2 separate regions of the Homo sapiens genome follow, and region 1 is linked to region 2. The links come from fine-mapping of genetic effects on gene expression. Tissue or cell type: whole blood. Region 2 holds a variant in brackets; the other region holds the start of a gene. All regions are shown on one strand. Distances are between the middles of the regions.

Region 1 (6,185 bases), 53 kb before region 2:
ACAAGCACGTGAACATGTCACTGGGGGTTAGACAGGAATGCTTATGGGGTCTGGTGGAAGGCAATATGGAAATGATTCATAGAGCAAGAACCACTTGAATTCAGTCTTGAAAAGAAGCTCCACTGGGAAGGTGCATTACAGACCTTGCACAATGAACCAAACCATGGAGAGGTGAACCTACACGTCAAGGTGGGAGGGTGGGTCCAGGATGAAATCAAAGAGGTAGGTGAAAAACAAATTCTCACTCATCCCAAAATAGCTGTTATTGAGCATCTGCTATGTGTTAAGCCCTAGGAGGTGGGAAGAAGGGAAGAGAGATACTAATACACTACTCATATCCCACAAAGGTGAAGAATGGCAAAGGTCTACAGACAGTGCCTTAGACATGGTAGGTACACTGTGAATTTGTTGATTCACAATCTTCCTCCAACACCACTTTAAATCACATGACCAAGAATAGCTTTCCATAACTGACCATATAAAATCAAGATCAAATGTTTTCCAGATTCAAGGCCCCCATCATCTACTCTCTACTTGGTTCTACCTCACTTCTTGCTACTTGCCAAATGTATCTTTTTATTCCAAATACATTACAGGCAAATTAGTGGGAAATATTCACACGTTGTATCTTCTTTGCACATATAATTTCCCTGGCCTTGAATGTTGATCTCCCTTATTTTCTAGCCATCTTTGTACATAACCTTTTTCAACAGTAACCAATGCAGGGATGATTTCTTTTTTCCACTCAGCTGGTTTTGGCCTTTTCCCTAAGACATCCCGTGGCACTTGTGGATTAAAGTTTCTGGCGTGTTTAGCACCAATGGATTTTGCTCTTTATGCTCCTTACAGTCATGCATGTATGAGATGGCACATAGTAGGTGCTGAAGAATCCCTTATTGGATTCATAGTATAGTGTTACATACCATAACAAAATACTGGCTGGGTGCAGTGGCTCACGCCTGTAATCCTGGCACTTTGGGAGGCCAAGGTGAGTGGATCACTTGAGGTCAGGAGTTCGAGAGCAGCCTAACCAACATGGCGAAACCCACCTCTACTAAAAATACAAAACTAGCCAGGTGTGGTGGCACACGCCTGTAATCCCAGCTACTTGGCAGGCTGAGGCAGGAGAATCACTTGAATCCAGGAGGCAGAGGTTGCAGTGAGCTGAGATTGTGCCATTGCACTCCAGCCTGGGCAACAAGAGCAAAACTCAAAAAAAAAACAAAACAAAACAAAAAAAACCTTCCCATTATCACGCACTGTGCTTTAAGATAAATATTATCAAACCTTCCCTTCCTCCCCTGAAACATAGATAATGAAATATACTGATTCATCAGCCTTGTAAATAATCCCAGTCTCCCCTAAGGAACTGCTGTGATATGATTGCAATCATCAGTCTACACTGGACGAGATGTTTCTAGAATAGTAACATTCTAGAAACACACACAGTAAGCTCCCAATAACTATTTGTGGAAATGAATTAAAACAATCAGCCTTTTTTCCCACACCTGTTATCCACTGCATTATGCAGCAAAAACTTCCAAGAGCAAAGTTTGTAAGCAGAACTTGAAGAAGAGCCCAAATCAAAACATGGGGAAAGTCATTTGACCCACTTTCCATGTTGTGCTATCCTAAAAAACTTAGGCCACTTTCTTCTTCCTGGAGGTAACAATCTGTCAATTGCTTAAGTTAGGACCATCATCCCTCTCCACCTTTAGAAGCTATTAGTGGGAACTGCCCAACACTGGCCATACAATCTGAAAATGGCATTTTCAAATAATTTATGGATAACATCCTAAAAAAGGACTGCCGATTGTCACACTCCACTCTGTGGATCTTTTCGAAAGAAAAAAAAAGTAAACAATCAAAAATTAAGTTAGGTTTCATCCCTCAAATGATATGGAGTTACCATAAATAAAAAAACTAAATGTCACAGAGAGGATACTAACTCTGATACTCCAGTGTGTGTCGAGCAAAAGTGCTTTGAAGCCAGCCAAAATCAACCCACAGATAATAAAGGAAACTTTGGAAATGTTGCCGCTCATTTGGACTTTTCTTTTCCCCTCTGACAATAGTCCACATGCTATGAATAAAATACATTAGACCATTGCGAGACCTGCCTCGGTCCATCCAATCCATGCGCCTCCCAATGCATTGAGATCTGCCGGGTGACATATGAGATCTAAAGTGGGTGGATAAAAATAACCTGGTCCTCAAAAAGACATGATAAACGCCAGACAGCTGAGTCACTTTGAAGCCCATTTTGACTTTTGAAAGGGACATTCACCCTCCTGCTGCTTCTCACACATTCACATAGAACCAGGTGAAAACCACCACCAACCGCCCCGGGTGGAAGGCGGCGATCCCTCTCAGCTTCCTCCTCATTCTCCGAGGTCACGACTCGGGATTGAACTTTTAATAATTTATACTTGCGCATGTCAGTCCAAGTGACTCATTTAGAAGGGCAAGGTGGGGAAGGCTTAAGAAAACCATCGCAATCCAGTAGATCCCCTATTTCTGCTGCCCGAGTGGAGGCACCGGAAGGTTTCGTCTGACATTTTTTTTTTTTTTTTTTTGAGACGGAGTCTCGCTCTGTCGCCCAGGCTGGAGGGCAGTGGCGCGATCTCGGCCCACTACAGCCTCCTCCTTCCCGGTTCAAGCGATTCTCAAGCCTCAGCCTCCCGAGTAGCTGGGACTACAGGCTCCCGCCACCGCGCCCGGCTAATTTTGGGGTTCTTTTTTAGTAGAGATGGGGTTTCGCCATATTAGCCAGGCTGGTCTCGAACTCCTGACCTCAAACGATCCGCCCGCCTCCGCCTCTTAAAAAGTGCTAGGATTTCAGACGTGAGCCACCGCGCCTGGCCCTGACATTCTAAAGACAAGAAAAGGAGTGGGGTGAAATGGGAACTGGTGGAAGAAAAGCTCAGAGAGCAAATCAGAATTGTCCAGAAGTGGGGATCCCTGAGCAAAGCAAGTGGTCCCAGAAAAAGAAGGGCTGTGTGTGTCCCGGGGTGTGGGGGGATCATCCCGTCCACCTACCCGCCCTGCGCTCTGCCCCGCGGAGGACGCAAACGATCTGCAACGTGCAGTTCGGAACAGGGAACTCTTGTATTTCATCTATCTTTAAACGGCGGCGGGGCTGTGTGCAAGCTGCTGGGAATCGGGCCCTTCCAGCCTGGGGAGGCTGGCGGAGCAAAACCACCAGCACGAGCCAGTCCTCGGCTGCAGCAGCCCTGGGGCGCTCACTAAGTGTCTGCCGAACTGCAGTGTTCCTGAGCCAACTCTGCCGCCCGGAGGAAGAGAAGAGGTCCCGGCCGCCACTGCGCATCTTCTCCCCCGGCTTCACGTGCCGCAGGCCGCCGGCCCCGCGACCCTCCCCCGAGGCGCCTCACTTACGGGAGAGTCGTAGGAGAAGGCGCACTCGTTCTTGTAGACCCTGTCGCCGGACCTGGGCACGCGGATCGTGGGCATGTGGGGCACTAGCAGCTCGCCGATGTCTCCTGCAGCCATCTTCCTGCCTCCGCTGCCGCCCGGCATGCCGAACAGGGCGCCCCGGCGCTGCATGGCCTCGGCGCGCACCGGAGCCGAGCGAGCCGAGCCGGAGCCGGAGCGCGGGGTCTGCCGGCGGCGGCGGCGCCAGCGAGCGGGCTGACGGGCGGGCTGCGCGGGCAACGGCAGCCGGCCGAGCCGGGGCGGGCGGGGAGAGCGGGCTGCGGGGCGGGAGCGGGCACCGCGGGCTTGGGGCGGACTGGCGACGCTATTTTTAATCCAATGGCGAGTCTCCGGCCCAGCTGCAGCGTCAGGCGGGGCTGGGGAGCGCCAGCCGCAGCGTGCCGGGGAGGGGGCGCTGGAGAGGGGCCCTGCGCGTGGGCCGGGCGCGGCGGCGGGGGGCGGAGGGCGAACCCCTGAGGCGTTGGCGCGGGAGCTCGAGCGGGCTGGCGGCCGAACGCGGCGCGGGAGGGCCCCGGGAAAACACCACGGAGGTGTTTTCTATCCCGAATTGTTGGCTTGCAGAGGGGCAACTCCGAGGAGGCCAACACAAAGAGCAGGATTGGGGGTTTTAAAAACCGCTTGCTTTTAAAACAGCCGAAGACTAGGGCGGTGACGTCCCCGGATTGGATAGGGGCGGGACTCGATGTGCAAATCTGAAATCTAACGTGAGGCTTAAATCTAAATTTGCGCCATGCACTTCAGTGCTTCCCCACTAAGCTTCGTTCCTTACTTTAACATCCAAGGCTCAAAAATAGAGCGAATAGAATAAGATCGAGTGAGGATAGAGGGTGTGTGTGTGGGGGAGGGCGGGGTGTGTGTGGGAGTGTGTGTGTAATAATAATACAGGTTTTCTTACATATTGGGGGAAGTCAGGGATGGTCAAGATTTTTTCAGGGCGTCGGAAGGCTTTCTATTTTTCTCTGCCTTTGGAGTATCTTCTATGTGATTCAAAGTTCTCATGTCGAACATTCAGTGGCCTGATTTGAGGATTTTGTAGGCAGGCATACATATTCCTGTCTTGATCATCAGTTCCTCAAAATAAATGATGAATGGGGTTGGCCTCGGGGGTTGATCATTTGCAAGCAGAGCATGTCTCCCAGCATACTCTCATTCTCTCCAAAAAACCCACAAGACGGGTTCAATGACATTGAGGTTCTCTAACTACACCCAACATATGTATTCATGACAGAGTATCCAGTGATCCCTGCCAGTTAATGAAATGCAGAAATAGCGAGAAATAGTGAACCAAAACGCTAATTTTTGTAAGCCTCTCTCAGATCAGATAGTCCTTAAGTTCTTTTTTTTTTCTTACTTTTTTTCTCTTTTAACTCTCCCTGGTTCTCCAGACCTATCTCAAGATTTCCATACCCTCAAGCAAGCCTCGAGCGCACCACACTTTCTTATAACTCAGCACTCCCAAATGCTATCTGTTGGAAAAGGAGGAGGTGGCACTGAGCAAAAAATCAGACACTACTGTCATCTTCCTCATTGGGCAGATCCTCTCAGCGAGCTTTTGCTTTGAATTTAGTCTCATCAGCTTATTACCTTTCACGTTAATGGATGATGTTTTCTCCAATTACAGAGATAAACTTGGTTTTACAAAACTTAAAATTTAATCTTAGATTAAATACAAATTAAATCAGTGAGACACTGTTTTTCATCCTTTGGGCTGGTAAAGATATATTGAGTTAGCATGGGTTTGGGAAGTAGACCCTCATTACATTGTTGGTGGGGATAAAAACGATAAACCTCTTTGGAAGGAAATGTAATAATACCAGTCATAACTTTATATGTGCATACTGTTTTCCCCAGCATTTCCTTGTCTAGACATTTATGCAACAGATAAATTAAGGCTGTGTAAAGATATTTGTTAGAGCACTGTTTCGAGTAACAAACGTCTGGGGAAAACCTAAAGATCCTTCTGTAGAAAGTGGTTAAAATACAGTACCATTGAAAAGAATGAAGTTGCTCTACGTGTGCTGATGTGGAACAATCTCCAAATTATTACTAGATGATAAAAGCAATTTAAGCAAACTAGTGTATAAAAGCAAGGAATACATGCAAGGCTGATAATATGCAGTAGGCATTTTGGCACATCCTATATACCATGGGCCTTCATTCCAGTTGGTTGTACTTGTAGTAAATATTTTTAATGTAGCCCCTTAAAATATACATATGTGTATGCATGCCCACTTGTTTGGCTTTAGGATGTCTCTAGAGCAATACACAAGAAACTAGTCAGGCTCTGTGGAGAAGAACTGAAAGCCTGAGGTTAAGGGAGAACTTACTACCTGGTATGGTAGGGCTGTGTCCCCACCCAAATCTCATCTTGAATTCCCACGTGTTGTGGGAGAGACCCAGTAGGTGGTAATTGAATCATGGGGGCAGGTCTTTCTCGTGCTGTTCTTGTGATAGTGAATAAGTCTCACAAGAGCTGATGGTTTTACAAACGTGAGTCTCCCTGCACAAGCTCTCTCCAGTTGTCTGCCTCCATCTGAGACGTGCCTTTCACCTTCCACCATGATTGTGAAGCCTCCCCAGCCACATGGAACTGTAAGTCCAATAAAACTTTCTTTTGTAAATTGCCCGGTCTCAGGTATGTCTTTGTCAGCAGCGTGAAAACAGATTACTACACTACCACTTTGTAGCTTTCTGTATGATTCCATTTGTATTATGTGCAAGTATTGCTTTTT
Region 2 (6,174 bases):
AGTTTGGATGGATTAAAAAAGAAGAGATATTTGTATTTACAGGATGTGTTACAATGAAAGTAACTGGTAACTTAGTAACTTCTTTTATTTATTTATTTTTCTTGGTCCTGGATCCAGTGAAGTATCCATTTATTACATTGGTTGCCATGACTCTTTAGTCTCTATCCGGAACAATTTCTTTTTTTTTTTTTTCTTAATGTTGTTGACATTTTGATGAGATTAGCTTTTTAAGAATCTTATTCATTTGGATTTGTCTGATTGTTTCCTCATTATAAGATTTAGGCTAAATATTTTTGGTAGGGATACAACACTTGTGATAAACTTCATTATTTAGTTTCAAATCATCTCAGGTCGTTAACTATTTTTTAAAAACAGGATTTTTGAATTACTGCATAATAATTTATCATCCAGATGCACAGTAATTTTTAAACCATTCTTAGCTGCGTATTTACATAATTAAAAACTTGACATCCTATATAGTGCTTTAATAAACATCTTAATTTATAAATTCCCATCTATAATAATTTTTTCAGTTGAAACTTCTAGATGCAGAATTACTGAATTAAAGGAGGAAGTATTTGAGGCTCCTGATACATGTTGCAAAATTGTGAGGTTTTTTTGTTTTTGTTTTTTGAGACAGGGACTGACTCTGTCGCCCAGGCTGGAGTGCAATGGTGTGATCTCAGCTCACTGAAACCTCTGCCTCCCAGGCTCAAAGCGTCCTCCCACCTCAGCCTCCCGAGTAGTTGGGACTATAAGGCACGTGCTACTATGCCTGGCTAATTTTTGTATTTTTGTTAAAGATGAGGTTTTGCCATCTTGCCCAGGCTGGTCTTGAGCTCCTGGGCTCAAAGTGATCCTCCCACCTCGGCCTTCCAAATTTCTGGGATAACAGGTGTGAGCCACCGTGCCCAGCCCACATGTTGCAAAATTGACTGCTCTTTTTACCTGCGCTTGCACCCATTAGCAATGTAAGAAGGACCCAAAAATGTTACCTTAAAATATAATTGTGTAACTATGTTACCTCTGAAATTATAAGGTAGCAGCTTCTATAATGCAGTATTAACAATACTTTCTAAAGCATTTTCAAAATTTATTGTGGCCAAGCATGGTGGCTCATCCCTGTAATTCCAGCACTTTGGGAGGCCAAGGTGGGAGGATCACTTGAGCCCAGGAGTTCGAGACCAGCCTGGACAACATAGTGAGACCCAGTCTCTAAATAAGAAAAAAAAATTAATTCTTGTGCAGAAACCCTGAGTAGCTTTTTAAAATGTTATCGATGACAAAATGATTATGTTTATTATGATAATGTTTATTGCTTATAAAATCCAGATATTATAAAACTTTTACTTGTTTATGTGTGTTCAATTGCAGGTTTTTTCTTAGTTTGTTGCCTAAGAGTACACCAAATGTGACATCCTTTCACCAATATAGATTACTTCATACCACATTGTCAAGGAAAGGACTAGAAGAATTTTTTGATGACCCAAAAAACTGGGGGCAAGAAAAAGTAAAATCTGGTGAGATACTTGGATTTGTCAACATTAGATATATTTATGGAACCCCCCCCCCCGCCCCGCCCAACCATCGTTCTAGGATTATATATCCAGTTTAGGAATTATTTAGATGTTTCCTTTTTCAGTTTTCTTTGAGACTGTCTACTAGAGAAAATTAAAGGGACAATATAATAGTAGAGTTAATTGTTCCTTGGCAGATTGGCAAGATGGTTAGATAAGGAATAGGCTGAAATTATTAACTAAAGTAAGGTTTAGGGCTTATTTTAGATTTTATTTTTTAATGATAATTTAAAGTTTGTTTATTTATTTAGAGATGGAGTTTTGCTCTTGTTGCCCAGACTGGGGTGCAGTGGCACAATCTCAGCTCACCGCAGCCTCTGCCTCTCGGATTCCAGTGATTCTCCTGCCTCAGCCTCCTGAGTAGCTGGGATTACAGGCACGTGCCACCACGCCCGGCTAATTTTGTATTTTAAGTAGAGACAGGATTTCGCCATCTTGGTTAGGCTGGTCTTGAACTCCCAAACTCAGGTGATGCCCGCCGTCTTGGCCTCCCAAAGCGTTGGGAATACAGGTGTGAACCACCGCCCCAGTTAATTTATAATGACAAAGTATTTTGTCATTAGGGTGTGAAAATACGTTCTGTACTAATGCTAACATTTTTTGAATGCTATTGCCAGTCATGTTAATAGTATTTTCGTATGTTACCTAATTTATCTCTAATTACACATTGTTATATACTATAAAAAAGCTGTTATATATTTTACAGATAAAGAAACAGGTTTAGACA[G/T]GTTTAGAGAGCTTAAATAATTTGCCAAAGGGCACATGGCTAGAAATGTTATTTCATGTTATGTATTATTTTAATAGGAGCAGCATGGACCTGTCAGCAACTAAGGAACAAAAGTAATGAAGATTTACACAAACTTTGGTAAGTATACTAAGTACATTAACATCTAGACGTTTGAAGCCGTTATAGTGTAACAATGAGGTGAAAACAATCTATCTGATATAAGAAATTGAGTAAAGCGATTTCTTTTGTAGTACTATGGATGATAAATCTGATGTTTAAGATCATGAAAGATTTTATATGACAGAGGTTAGATTATGACAAATGTCACAATTCTCAAGTAGTTGGGAATTCAGAAATTTTACTGTAATTTACATTGGTCCTACTAACATGTTTATACTAGCAATTTCAGTTAATTAATAAAATGAAACAGAGAATAGTTGGTGGCTTTTGTTTTTTTCTTTGAGACAAGGTCTCGCTCTGTTGCCCAGGCTGGAGTGCAGTGGTACAGTAACGGCTTACTGCAGCCTTGACCTCCTGGGCTCAAGTGATCCCCCACCTCAGCCTCCTGAGTATCTGGGACCACAGGTATGCACCACCACACCCAGCTAATTTTTTTGCGTTTTATGGAGAGGGAGTCTCCCTATGTTACCCAGGCTGCTCTCACTGGGGCTCAAGTGATCCTCCTACCTCAGCCTCCCAACATCCTGGGATTACAGGCATGAGCCACTGTGCCCAGCCATTGGTTATATTTAAAATTCTCTCCTTTTTATTACATTTTCATGATCTGTAATCTTTAGTGTATTTGCTTTGGAAAGGTGTGTTGGAGGATGCATTTAATTGAGAATTTAGGTAGATTTTTCTGGCAGGCTCTGATGAATTAGGGTTGAGAGGATTTAAGACAGGGTTGCATTTTTAATGTACTATATGTAGCCCAAAGATATGTTTTGTTTGGACTGTAATTGTTTTTTAAATTGGGAAGTTTCACACAGAAAATATTATTTTTGTCGGCTCTTGAATAATGAGACCTGTGATTTGGCAACACCGGCCCTGCATTCCTACATGGCAACAACTTGGCTGGTGTGTGGAGCAACTGCCCCTTCTAGATGGAGCAGGGACACACCACTTCTCGGCCACCCTGTGGTTCTTTCACTATGTCTACTTCCTTCATAATTGTTATCTGCCTAGGGACTCTAGTAGACATTTGCTTTTTTTTATTTTATCTTTTTGAGACACAGTCTCACTCTGTCACCCAGGCTGCAATTCAGTGGCGTGATCTTGGCTCACTGCAACCTCCACCTCCCAGGTTCAAGCAATTCTCATGCCTCAGCCTCTCAAGTAGCTGGGATTATAGGCTCATGCTGCCATGCCCAGCTAAATTTTTGTATTTTTAGTAGAGATGGGGTTTCACCACATTGGCCAGGCTAGTCTTGAATTCCTGACCTCAAGTGATCCGCCTGCCTTGGCCTCGCAAAGTGCTGGGATTATAGGCATGAGCCACCGTGCCCAGCCAACATTTATGTTTGTTGATGTAAAGCATTGTTTATCTTTCATGACAAATTAAAGAATTGTGAAGTGTTTATGAAAACCACTGATACTATGTTTATTCATTATAGAAAAATAAGTTGTATTAAAGCACTATTAGTTACTGTGGGTTATCAGTGAAAGGATAGTTAAGGCTATTTCAACATTCATCATGGCTGCAACCAACTAAAGTTATGCCATTTCTCTTTTTTGTTTTTTTTTTTTTGAGACAAAGTCTCGCTTTGTCGCCCAGGCCGGAGTGCAATGGCACGATCTCAGCCCACTGCAACCTCCGCCTTCCATTCCAGGTTCTCCTGCCTCAGCCTCCTGAGTAGCTGGGATTACAGGCACGCACCACCATGCCCAGCTAATTTTTGTATTTTAGTAGAGACGGGGTTTCACCATGTTGGCCAGGCTGGTCTCGAACTCCTGACCTCAAGTGATCCACCTGCCTCGGCCTCTGAAAGTGCTGGGATTACAGGTGTGAGCCACTGCACTTGGCCCCAACTCGTATTCCCAAATAGATGTATTCAGAAAATCTGCCTTCACTTTAGCTCTGCTGCTTCAGTACCTTTGATTATGTTTGCTCTGCTCTCCCTTCTATCATAAATTCCATCTCTATGACTCTTTCCCTGGTCATCTTAGCTAGAAGAGATGTTTCTCATCTCCCCCACTTAATTCTTCTGGTACTTATTGCCTGTCCCACTTATTATCCCACATCACATTACAGTTTCAGAAGCAGCGTGGTGGAGTTAAAATAGAATGGATTTTATACACAGAGATCAGGGATTTGAATCTTGAATTACCTGTATGACCCAGAATACCTTACTTCTCTCAGCCTTAGCTTCTTCGTTAAGTAAGTGGAAATAATACCAACCTCAGAAGGTGGTTGTGAAAACTAGATGAAATAAGTGTATATAAAATGTTTAACACATTGTCTGGCATATAATAGGTACTCAGTAAATGTTATTTATCTTCCATCTGCCTTCTCTACTCTCCACTCAGAATGTAAGGACTATGTTTTATGCCTCTTTGTAGCTCTCTTAGCACTTAATACATGTGGCAAATGGAAGGTTTATTGAACACATGGATAAGCAAAGATAGTTTATGTATAATGGATTATTCTTTGTAATCATATTCTATATATTGAGATTTCTAATATGTCTTTTTTTTTTTTTTGAAGCAAGATCTCACTTTATCCCCAGGCTGGAGTATAGTAGTGTGATCTTAGCCCACTATAGCCTCAAATTCCTAGGCTCAAGCAATCCTCCTGCCTTAGTCTCCCAAACAGCCGGGGCTACAGGTGTGTGCTGCCATGCCCGGCTAATTATATTTTTTATTTTTTGTAGTGATGTTTATTTTTTCTAGCTGTGTTGCCCAGGCTGGTATTGAACTCCCAAGGTCAAGCGATCCTCCTACCTCAGCCTCCCAAAGTGCTGGGATTACAGGTGTGAGCCACAGCACCTCGCCTCTAAGTGACTTTCAAGTACAGATAATTAATTTTGATGTCAGAAATCACAACTTTATTAACATAACCACAGAATAGCATCACAAGGTTTGTGTTCTTTTGTATAGGTATGTCTTACTGAAAGAAAGAAACATGCTTCTAACCCTAGAGCAGGAGGCCAAGCGGCAGAGATTGCCAATGCCAAGTCCAGAGCGGTTAGATAAGGTAAGGATTGGGAGAGGCTGGAGACTGGTATACATGATTACAGCTAAAAGGAGTGAGTATGTGGTTCCTGTATTTCTTGTCAAATAGATTTTTTTTTCTTATTCGTTTGATTTTTAGTAAATTTGAGTAGTGCAACCATCATAGCTCCTTTGGAAACATTTCCATCGCCCCTAAAAGAAATCTCATACTCACCTGCAGTCATTCCTCATTTCTACCTGCAACGTGTTTTTTGTTTTTTTTTTTTTGTTTGTGTGTGTGTGTGTGTGTGTGTGTGTGTCAGTGTGTCAGGTGGGTCTCACTCTGTCGCCCCCAGGCTGGAGTGCAGTGGTGTGATATCTTGGCTCACTGCAACCTCCACCTCCCAGGATCAAGCAATTCTCCTGCCTCAGCCTCCCAAGTTGCTGGGATTACAGGCACATACCACCATGCCAAGTTAATTTTTGTATCTTTGGTATAAATGTGGTTTCACCATGTTGGCCATGCTGGTCTCAAACTCTTAACCTCAAGTGACCTACTCACCTTGGCTTCCCAAACCTACCTGCAACTTCTAACATACATGTGGACAAATGTTTTTGAGTAGATACCTAGGAGTGAAATTGCTGGCTTATATGATAAATCTATATTTAGCATTTTAAGAAACCGCCAAACTGTATTCTAAAGTAGCTATACCACTTTAC

Evidence for each region. PIP is the estimated chance that this variant, and not a neighbour inherited with it, causes the effect.
Region 1: it holds the start of USP13, and the variant in region 2 is fine-mapped to the expression of USP13 in whole blood (TOPMed, PIP above 0.99).

Annotation. Positions count from the first base shown.
Region 1 is chr3:179,650,605-179,656,789 of GRCh38, reverse strand. It overlaps USP13 (ubiquitin specific peptidase 13), which reads right to left and starts at 3,750. Exons shown (of 21, transcript NM_003940.3): 1 at 3,397-3,750. The coding sequence starts at 3,564. RefSeq lists an enhancer at 3,277-3,920 and silencers at 3,589-3,928, 3,939-4,018.
Region 2 is chr3:179,597,998-179,604,171 of GRCh38, reverse strand. It overlaps MRPL47 (mitochondrial ribosomal protein L47), which reads left to right. Exons shown (of 7, transcript NM_020409.3): 2 at 1,375-1,520; 3 at 2,382-2,442; 4 at 5,401-5,497. Among named protein-coding and RNA genes, the nearest start is that of MRPL47, 3.6 kb to the left of the region's middle. RefSeq lists an enhancer at 1-244. The variant G/T (reference allele first, on the strand shown) is at 2,305.